Regions from separate parts of the Homo sapiens genome. Here region 2 is linked to region 1. Evidence: fine-mapped expression QTL. Tissue or cell type: neutrophils. Region 1 holds a variant in brackets; the other region holds the start of a gene. All regions are shown on one strand. Distances are between the middles of the regions.

Region 1 (5,612 bases):
AGGCACGCAGGGGCCTTGTCAGAAATAGCTCTGGGCTCCCACTTTGGTAGGGCTCACCCTGTGCCCAGAGCTTTGGCATGCCAGAGTTGGCAGAGCCTGCGTCCCAGCTGGCAGTATCTTCCCCTGCTGTTTTCCAGATGAGGAAACTGAGGCCAGGTACAGAGGCTCACGCCTGTGATCCCAGCACTCTGGGAGGGCGAGGCAGGAGGATCGCTTGAGCTCAGGAGTTTGAGACCAGCCTGGGCAACATGGCGAAGCTCGGTTTCTTTCTTTCTTTTTAAATTAATTAATTAATTAATTAATTAAATTTTTTAGACTTTAAGTTCTAGGGTACATGTGCACAACGAGCAGGTTTGATACATAGGCATACATGTGCCATGTTGGCTTGCTGCACCTATCAACTCGTCATTTACATTAGGTATTTCTCCTAATGCAATCCCTCCCCCAGGCCCCCACCCCCCGACAGGCCCCAGTGTGTGATGTTTCCCGCCCTGTGTCCAGGTGTTCTCATTGCTCAGTTCCCACCTATGAGTGAGAACATGTGGTGTTTGGTTTTCTGTTTCTGTGTTAGTTTGCTGAGAATGATGGTTTTCAGCTTCATCTGTGTCCCTGCAAAGGACATGAACTCATCCTTTTTTATAGCTGCATAGTATTCCCTGGTGTATATGTGCCACACTTTCTTAATCCAGTCTATCATTGATGGACATTTGGGTTGATTCCAGGTCTTTGCTATTGTGAATAGTACCGCAATAAACATACATGTGCATATGTCTTTATAGTAGCATGATTTATAATCCTTTGGGTATATACCCAGCAATGGGATCGCTGAGTCAAATGGTATTTCTAGTTCTGGATCCTTGAGAAATCACCACACTATCTTCCACAATGGTTGAACTAATTTACATTCCCACCAACAGTGTAAAAGCGTTCCTATTTCTCCACACCTGTGATCCCAGCACTCTGGGAGGCCGAGGCAGGAGGATCGCTTGAGCTCAGGAGTTTGAGACCAGCCTGGGCAACATGGCAAAGCTCTGTTTCTTCAAAAAGAAAAAAAATTACCTGGGCTTGGTGGCAGACGTCTGTGGTCCCAGCTGCTACTACTCAGGAGGCTGAGGCAGGAAGAATCACCCGAGCTGGGGAGTTTGAGGCTGCGGTGAGCTAAGATGGTGCCACTGCACTCCAGCTTGGGTGATAGAGTGAGACCCTGTGTCAAAAACAAAAAGAAAGAAAGAAAACTGAGGCATTACAGTGTCCACATAAAAGCCCAGGGAGGGAGAAGGGGCCCTCTTCCGATGCCAGGCAGGTGCCAAGAAGAGAAGCTTCACCGCACAGAGCAGACCCCCCGGATCTTTCTGGTCTTTCTAAGCCAGTTTCCTCCTGTGGGAAACTTATATTTCAGAGGCCCCTGGGCACTTCGTTAATCAACAGAGAATCATGTGATAGGAGGGTTCTTTCCTTTCTGGATAAATCATATGATTAGCTTGTCTCTTGAGGTACGTAATCATTTTTTAAAACGCTATATATATTTTTAAGAGATCTTACTCTGTCACCCAGGCTGGAGTGCAGGGTCACCATCACAGCTCACTGCAGCCTCAAACTTCAGGGCTCAAGGGATCCTCCTGCCTCAGCCTCCTGAGGAGCTGGGACTACAGCTGTGCACCATCACGTCTGGCTAGTTTTCTCCTTAAGTGTTTTTTTTTTTTGTAGAGACGAGATCTCGCTATCCTGCCAAGAAAATGCTATTATTTATGGAGCACTTAATTTGTACCAGGTCTGGTCCTAAGTGCTTTTTTTTTTTAATCTATATTAACTCATTTACTCCTTAAAACATCTGCAATGATGTTGTCATTCCCATTTGACAGAGGAGGAAACTGAGGCACAAGTGACTCACCCAGCTGAGACTCAGATCCACAGGCCGGCAGCCCAGCCCTGGAGTCCCTGCGATGAGCCCAGGGGAAAGTCTCCACTGGGCACTAACATGTCTTTAGCGCCTCCGTGACCCTGAGGCTTAGCAGGTGTCTGTATCCAGCCAGAATTCAAGGACTTGGTTTTGTGTTCCTCATATTTATATTTATTTTTAGGTTTCCCTACTATCTGGGGCAATGAGGAGGGTTTTTCAGTGAGGATGCCGAAATCAAGTCTCCTTGTTACATGAGTAAATTCAAGATGCAGAAGTGATGAATGCTAAGGAAAATATAGTTCAGTTGTTCAAAGGGGGAGATTGCAGCGATGGAGAAAAAAGTCACTAATGACTGAAGTCAGAGAACTATTGTCCTGGGAATAATCAAACATCCACAGTCCTAGAATTTACCCCTTCCTGTCCCGGGCTCCTGTGGGGGTGGCCTGGGCTGTGGGGGAGGGGAGTGAACACCAGCAGAAGCTGGAAGGAGAGAGGGCCAGACCAGGTCTGGAGGGATTTTGCCTTTTTTTTCTCAGAAAGCCAGAAACTCCAGCTAGAACCCCAGG[G/A]CTCAACGTCCCTTCTCTGCAGATCAGACGGGCAGGTCAGACAGCTGGCGTCTGCAGAATCTCAGGGAGGTAGTGGCACTTCCTGATGCCAGGGATTGTCCCTACACCCCTTCATGGTGATCATCGACTCTTCTTAATTTAATTTTATTTTACTGTATTTTAGAGACAGACTCTGGTGTTGCCCAGGTTGGAGTACAGTGGCGCCATCTCGACTCACTGCAACCTCCGCCTCCCGGGTTCAAGCGATTCTCCTGCCTCAGCCTCCAGAGTAGCTCGGACTACAGGTGCCCACCACCACACCTGGCTAATTTTTGTATTTTTATTTTATTTTATTTATTTGTTCATTCATTTATTTATTTTGAGACAGAGTCTCGCTCTGTCACCCAGGCTGGAGTGTGGTGATGTGATCTCAGCTCACAGCAACCTCTGCCTCCTGGGTTCAAGAGATTCTCCTGCCTCAGCCTCCCAAGTATCTGGAATTACAGGTGCAAGCCACCACGCCTGGCTAATTTTTGTATTTCTAGCAGAGATGGAGTTTCGCTATGTTGGTCAGGCTGGTCTCGAACTTCTGGCCTCAAGTGATCTGCCTGCCTTGGCATCCCAAAAGTGCTGGGATTACAGGCGTGAACCACAATGCCCGGCCTGAAACATTCTTTTTAAATTTTTATTTTATTATTATTATTATTATTTATTATTACTTTTTTCTGAGACGAAGTCTTGCTCTGTCACCCAAGCCGGAGTGCAGTGGTGCTATCTCGTCTCACTGCAATCTCTGCCTCCCGGGTTCAAGCAATTCTCCTGCCTCAGCCTCCCGAGTAGCTGGGATTATAGGCACCTGCCATCGCATCTAGATAATTTTTGTATTTTTAGTGGAGACAGGGTTTCACCATGTTGGCCAGGCTGGTCTCGAACTCCTGTCCTCAAATGATCCACGCGCCTCAGCCTCCCAAAGCGTTGGGATTACAGGCGTGAGTCACCATTCCTGGCGGCTTTCTTGAGTCTCTCCAATACTTCTCACCATCTCCCTTCTTCCCTAGCAACCATCTGCCCTCGAGCCGCATTAGGCTGTCAGCCCCCTGAGTGACTTTTGTCTTTTTCTCTGCAGAGCACCAGCACAGAGCCTGTGCTGAGTGGGGCCCTATATGGTAAACCATGCAAATTAGTAGTACTCCTGCCACTCCACTCCGCTGCCGCCCAGCTAAAGGAAGCCTCCTTCAGCCTCGCTGATCTGGTCCCTGCCGGGGTGTCTGCCTATGTTTCTCCGCCTTCTCTTTGTCCAGAAGTCTCAGTCCTGCTGACCTATTTTGCAGCTTCTGGACAACCTCTGCAATGATGGGGGGTGCGAACATGGTCCTCATTTGTCAAAAGGGGAACTGGAACCTGGGGGTTTGGGGCCCCTGGCCCCAGGTTGCTCAGCTAAGAAGTAACCCAAGATTACCTGTAATCCCAGCTGCTTGGGAGGCTGAAGCAGGAGAATTGCTTGAGCCCAGGAGATGTAGGTTGCAGTGAGCTGAGATCGCGTTATTGCACTCCAGCCTGGGCGATAGAGCCAGACTCCGTTTCAAAAAAAAAAAAAAAAAAAAAAGAAGCAACCCAAGATTATCCAACCAACAATAATAATGGTATTATTAATTATATTAGTATAATTTATTGTTATTATTTTAGAGACAGGGTCTCTGTTGCCCACGCTGGAGCACAGTGGCGGTGGCACAATTATGGCTTCAGGCAACCTGCACGTCCTGGGCTTATGTGATCCTCCTGCCTCAGCCTACCAAGTAGCTGGGACTACAGGCATATGTTGCCATGCCTGGCTAACTTTTCACTTTTTTTGTGTGTGTGTGAGGGGGACGGAATCTTGCCCTGTTACCCAGGCTAGAGTGCAGTGGCGAGATCTCGGCTCACTGCAACCTCCGCCTCCCAGCTTCAAGCAATTCTCCTGCCTCAGCCTCCCTAGAAGCTGGGATTACAGGCACACACCACCACGCCCAGCTAATTTTTTAGTAGAGACGGGGTTTCACCATGTTGGCCAGGCTGGTCTCGATCTCCTGACCCTCAAGTGATCCGCCCACCTCAGCCTCCCAAAATGCTGGGGTTACAGGTGCATGCCACCATGCCTAGCCACACTCCTTTTTTAAATTTAAAAACTGAGTGAAGTCAGGAGAAAAAAATCTTAAATTGCAGCATGACAGATTCCATACTAGAATCTTGAAAAAGTCTCCAAAGCCCCATAGGAAAAAGCCACCTTGCAAAAAAGCTGAGATACAAAGATAATAAAAGATTTGGTTTCAGGATACAAACATATGCAAGAAGACTTTAAAAAATAATCAAGGCTGCCGGGCGCGGTGGCTCATGCCTGTAATCCCAGAGAGGCCGAGGTGGGCAGATCACCTGAGGTCAGGAGTTCAAGACCAGCCTGGCCAACATGGTGAAACCCCGTCTGTACTAAAAGTACAAAAATTAGCCGGGTATGGTGGTGGGTGCCTGTAATCCCAGCTACTTGGGAGGCTGAAGCAAGAGAATCACTTGAACCCGGGAGGCAGAGGCTGCAGTGAGCTGAGATTGCGCCACTGCACTCCAGCCTGGGAGACAAGAGTGAGACTCCGTCTAAATAAAATAAAATAAAATAAAAATACATAAATATAAATAAATAAATAAAAATAAACAAGGCTGGGCCGGGCGCAGTGGTTCATGCTCGTAATCCCAGCTACTTGGGGATGCTGAGACGGGAGGATTGCTTGAGCCCAGGAGTTCGAGACCATCCTGGGCAACATAATGAGACCTCCATCTCTACAATAAAAATAAAAAATTCGCCAGGTGTGGTGACTCGCACCTGTGGTCCCAGCTACTCAGGAGGCTGAAGTGGGAGGATGGCTTGAGCCCAGGAATTCGAGGTGGCAGTGAGCTGTGATCATACCACTGCACTCCAGCCTGGGTGACAGAGCAAGACCCTGTCTCAAAAATAAATAAAATAAAAAAATAAGTAACTGAGCAAAGGAATAAGGTGCAAAGAATATTCAGAGTGGTGGTAATCAGCAAGATAAAGATGGGAGCATGGGAACAAGGTCATGTCTCAGTTCTTGGTGATGAGGGAGGCTCATGGGTATGCCTTCCTTCCCTTTTATTTTTTAATTTACATATTTTTTGCA
Region 2 (5,612 bases), 90 kb before region 1:
ATGGATGCACTGGAGGCCATTATCCTTAGCAAACTAACACAGGAACAGCAGACCAAATACTGGATGTTCTCACTTCTTTTTTTTTGAAACGGAGTCTAGCTCTATTGCCCAGGCTGGATTGCAATGGTGCGATCTCGGCTCACTGCAACATCTGCTTCCCAGGTTCAAGTGATTCTCCTGCATCACCCTCCCGGGTAGCTGGGATTACAGGCGCCTGCCATCATGCCCGGCTAATTTTTGTATTTTTAATAGAGACGGGGTTTCACCATGTTGGCCAGGCTGGTCTTGAACTCCTGACCTCAGGTGATCCACCTGCCTCAGCCTCCCAAAGTGCTGGGATTACAGGCGTGAGCCACCATGCTTGGCCACTGACTCCTTTCTTACTCCTGGCTTTGTTGAGTTATAGTTGACAAATAAAAATTGTATATATTTAAGGTGTACAACTTGATGTTTTGATATACATACAGTGAAATAATGAAGCAATTAGCACATCCATCGCCTCACATATTTGCTTTTTTTTTTTTGGTGGTAAGAACACGTAAGACCTACCCTCTTAGCACATTTCAAGTACATAATATGTTCCTGTTAACTACAGTCACCATGCTGTACATTAGATCTCCAAAACTTATTTATCTGAAATAACTGAACCTTTGTACATTTTGTTTTTTAAATGATACATTTCTTTTATTTTTATTTTTAGAGACAGTGTCTTGCTATGTGGCCCAGGCTGGTCATCTGGAACTCCTGGACTCAAGCGATCCTCCTGCCTTGGCCTCCCAAAGTGTGCTGTGATTACATGCATGAGCCACCCCGCCCGGCCCAACTTCTTTGTAAGAACATTTAGCTTAAAACACAGATAAATTGTACTGCATAAAGGTATTTTCTTTCTTTATATCCTTATTCTATAAGCTATTTTTCATTTTTTTTTTTGAGATGGAGTTTTGCTCTTGTTGCACAGGCTGGAGTGCAATGGCAAGACCTTGGGTCACTGCACCCTCCACCTCCTGGGTTCAAGCAATTCTCCTGCCTCAGCCTCCCGAATAGCTGGGATTACAGGCGCATGCCACCATGCCCAGCTAATTTTTGTATTACTAGTAGAGACTGGGGGTTTCATCATGTTGGCCAGGCTGGTCTCGAACTCCTGACCTCAAGTGATCCACCAGCGTCGGCCTCCAAAGTCTTGGGATTGCAGGCGTAAGCCACCGCGCCCGGTCTTTTCATATTTTTAAAACCTTTTTAAATGTGAGTAATGTGTTGCACTGCAACATTGTGACAGTTACAACATCACTAGGTGATAAGAAATTTTCAGCTCCATTATAACCTTATGGGATCACAACTGTGTATGTGTTTCGTGGTTGACCAAAACCTTGTTATGTGGTGCATGACTGCACATGTGCTTGATATATAAAGAATACCAGGGAACTAGTGACAGTGGTTGTTTCAGGGGAGGAAAATTTAGGAATAGAGTGAGCCTCCCGTTTGAACTTTTCCCATAGGTATGTACTATGTATACTACATAATAAATAGTTTTTAAAAAGTCAGATCTATGTCTTAGATTCACACATCTTATTTTTAGTGAGAAGGGCAAGCTGTAGAAGAAACAAAAATACATCGTCCTATTTTTAGAATAAAGACAGTTAGTTGACCCGTGAACACCAAGGGTTTGAACTGTGGCTATCCCCTTATAGGTAGATTTTTTTCTACCTTTGTCCTCCTTGGGACAGCAAGACAAACCCCTCCCTTTCCTCAGCCTACTCAGGGTGAAGCTGACGATGAAGACGTTTATTTATGATCTTTACGATCACTTCCACGTAACGAAGAGTAAATATATTTTCTCTTCTTCATGATTTTCTTAATAACACTTTCTTTTCTCTGAGCTTAGTTTATTTTAAGAATATGGCATATAATATACAAAATATGTGTTAACTAACTTTATGTTATTGGTAAAGCTTCTGGTTAACAGTAGTCTATTAGTAGGTAGGTTTTGGGGGAGTCAAAAGAAGTGAATTTTCCACTGCACAGGGTGGCGCCCCAACTCCCGTTGCCTAAGGGTCAGCCGTATAAAAATATACAAAAACAATCTTAAGTATGGGTATATTTTTGTAGGGGATTGGATTAAGCCCATGGATAAAGGTGGAAGGGGTTGGGGAAAAGGAAGGAGAAAAGGGTAAGTTAAATATTGAGCATCCCTAAAGAGACCCGGGGAGGGGTCGGGTGTGCCCCTCTCAACCCTTGAAGCCCAGGTCCCCTCATCCCGCCTTCCGAATGCAAGTTCAGCTCCCATTCCCACCCCAAGCACAAGCCCCGCCCCATTTTTGCCCCTGAGGCGCACGACCCGCCCCTACTACCACCCTGCAAACCAAGGCCCCGCCCACTCCGCCATTGGGGTGCAAGCCCCGCCCATCAGCCATCGGAGGGCAAGCCACACTCCACCCCGCCCCCGCGCACAGGCCCCGCCCCACTTTTGCCCCGGGACCTAAGCCCCACCCCTATCCCTGTCTCTCGGACATAGGCTCCGCCCCCAGCACCACCCTCCATGCTCTGTGGGACCCCACTCCAGAGCCTAACCTCATCCCCCGGGTAAGAATACTAGAATTTCTCCTTGGAGGCTAAAGAAGACGTTAGTTTCTCTGCCGCCGCCTAAGGCTACCCTGGCCACAACAGCCTGAGCCACAGCCACTTCCGTTCCCGGCGGCCCCGAGACCGGAAGCGGAAGTGCGCGCGGCGGCGGCCGACGGCGGCTGAGCTGTGCTGCGCGGCGCGGCGCGGTGCGGCACGGCACGGTGGGAGTGTCTCCGGCTGGCTTGCAGGTGTGGCCCGGCCCCTCGGGAGGGCGGGGAGGGCGGGGAGGGCTCGGCTGGCGCGGGGAGGGACTGGAGGGCCTAGAACAGCTCCGCCTGTGTGAGGGGTTTCCTCCCTGCGATCAGCCGGTGGCCGGCGTGAGGCCCACACAGTCAGGGCCTCGCATCTGGGCGCCCGCCGCCCGGTCTCTCGCTCTCAGGTACCCCCCGTCCGGGCAGACAGGGCTGTCATCCTGTCAAAAGGGAAATCCCAAACAGTCCAGGTCCCACAGCTCAGAAATGTGGTGACACCGGCCCCAGCTCTCACCTGTCCTTCCCAATTTTTAGGGAAAGTGCATAAAGACGGCCCTACCTTGCCTACAGTATGCAAGATAACTGCGAATTAGTAATTCACGTTTTATTTGATATGATACTTAATATTATCTAGCTTTGCAACTGGAAAGTGAGGTCTGGGTCCACATGTGCAAACTGGTTTAATTGATTGGCCAAATTTACTTAAAAAATTGAATGCATCCTCCATTAAGGAATGAATTAGATGACGAGAGATTTCTTTTGGAGACTGACAATTTGAAGTCTTTTAGCTTAATATCTGTTAGCTTGGCTTTGCATCTCTTCCTTTTCCATAACTTTTTCTTTCTTCTTTTTTTTCTTTCTCATAAGAAAGCTTTTGGCCAGGCTTGGTGGCTCACTCCTATAATCCCAGCACTTTGGGAGGCCGAGGCGGGTGGATCACCTGAGGTCAGGAGTTTGAGACCAGCCTGGCCAACATGGTGAAACCCTGTCTTTACTAAAAATACACAAATTAGCCGAGCGTAGTGGTGGGCGCCTGTAATCCCAACTACTCGGGAGGCTGAGGCAGGAGAATCGCTTGAACCCCAGAGGCGGAGGTTGCAGTGAGCTGAGATTGTGCCACTGCACTCCAGCCTGGGTGACAGAGCAAGACTCCATCTCAAAAACAAAAACAACAACAAAAGGAGGAGTTCTTAATTTTTTTTGTTTTTGTTTTTCTTTATTTTCTATGTTTGAGACGACTTTTACTTCTGCTGTGGGCATCAAGTTTCTCACTGTTAGGTTAAGAAAAGCCGTTTCTCAGTTATTTCACAAATATTATTATCAAGAAAACCTAAGACTGTTATTCAGATCTTTTCAAGTTGGCTCCAGTCCTTCCCCCAAGCATGTGAATCACAGAGCTTCAAAACTAATGGAACTTCAGGGAAAAGACGATATAAACTTTGTTAATACTGGAAATTCAAATTGAGTTGGCCATAAGTGGGATGTCTTTTTTAATAATGGGGTTAAAGCTCGTGTCTACTGAGAAATCAGGAAAAAATTAACTCCAGAGGAAAATCATGCATCAGATTTCAGTTTTACGAGTGAGGTGTTTGTTTCCACAAAGAATATATGCGCTTGCCTTGCCTTTTTAAAAAGAATTAATATTGTTTCTTAAAGGTACCTGAAACTTGTGTGATTATGTCTTATGAAAGACAGGCACTTTAAGTTATTCTTATATTTGATTTTTATGGTGTCATATTGTCTTTTTTTTTTTTTTTTTTGAGACAGAGTCTCACTTCATCACCCAGGCTGGAGTGCAGTGGCACAATCTCGGCTCACTGCAGCTTCTGCCTCCTGGGTTCAAGCAATTCTCGTGCCTCAGCTTCCCAGGCAGCTGTGATTATAGGCGCCCGCCACCATGCCCGGCTAATTTTTGTATTTTTAGTAGAGACGGGGTTTCACCATGTTGGCCAGGCTGGTCTGGAACTCCTGACCTCAGGTGATCCACCCGCCTCGGCCTCCCAAAGTGCTGGGATTATAGGCGTGAGCAACCATACCTGGCCTCATACTGTGTTTTGTGTGTGCGTGGGCATATTCCTTCTTAGGCTAGCTATACTGAGTCATTCTTGAGGAGTGTTGATTATTTGGCATATTTTCACTGGGGTGCCCTCAATGAATTGGACCCTGTACATGGGGAAACAGTGGGACTGAAATAGTTACAGTGCTTGCCCCTGTGGAGGCTTTATTCTAGCTAATAATATTGGTAAATTAATAGTGCCAAAGGCAATATGAGAACGTGGAACAGGAGAACTTGGGGAGGATGTCAGGAAACACATCTGAAAAGGAACAAATGTTTGAACCTTCAAGATGAGTTGTACGTAGCTAAACAAGGGGTCTAGCTGTGGAGTGGGGTAGCGGAGGAAACTTGAGAGAACATTCCAGATGTACAGTCTTTCAGGCAGTACGAAGCCTGCTGTGTTCCAGGAGCTGAGAACAGGTAGAGAAAGCTAAAGTAGAGAAAATAAAGTACTGAATGGATGAGCCAGGTGAGAGAGGGAGGCAGGTCCCTGAAGATCATGGTTAGCATTGGATCTTCTTTTTATTTATTTTTTTTCTTTCAGACAGAGTCTTGCTCTGTCACCCAGGCTGGAGTGCAGTGTGGGATCTGGGCTCACTGCAGCCTCCACCTCCCGGGTTCCAGCGATTTTCTGGCCTCAGCTTCCTGAGTAGCTGGGATTACAGGTGTGTGCCACCATGCCCAGCTAATTTTTGTATTTTAAGTAGAGATGGGGTTTCACCATGTTGGCCAGGCTGGTCTTGAACTCCTGACCCCAAGTGATCCACCTGCCTCGGCCTTCCAAAGTGCTGGGATTATAGGCATGAGCCACCGTGCTTGACCTGGACCTTATTCTTTTTTTTTTTTTCTTGACATGGAGTCTTAGTCTGTTGCCCAGGCTGCAATGCCGTGGCACGATCTCAGTTCACTGTAACCTCCGCCTCCTGGGTTCAAGCAACTCTACTGCCTCAGCCTCCCTCCCG

Evidence for each region. PIP is the estimated chance that this variant, and not a neighbour inherited with it, causes the effect.
Region 2: it holds the start of ZNF333, and the variant in region 1 is fine-mapped to the expression of ZNF333 in neutrophils (BLUEPRINT, PIP 0.95).

Annotation. Positions count from the first base shown.
Region 1 is chr19:14,777,198-14,782,809 of GRCh38, forward strand. ADGRE2 (adhesion G protein-coupled receptor E2) reads right to left here and starts at 1,363. Exons shown (of 21, transcript NM_013447.4): 1 at 1,060-1,363. The variant G/A (reference allele first, on the strand shown) is at 2,467.
Region 2 is chr19:14,687,341-14,692,952 of GRCh38, forward strand. ZNF333 (zinc finger protein 333) reads left to right here and starts at 2,708. Exons shown (of 12, transcript NM_032433.4): 1 at 2,708-2,810. RefSeq lists silencers at 2,302-2,351, 2,682-3,051.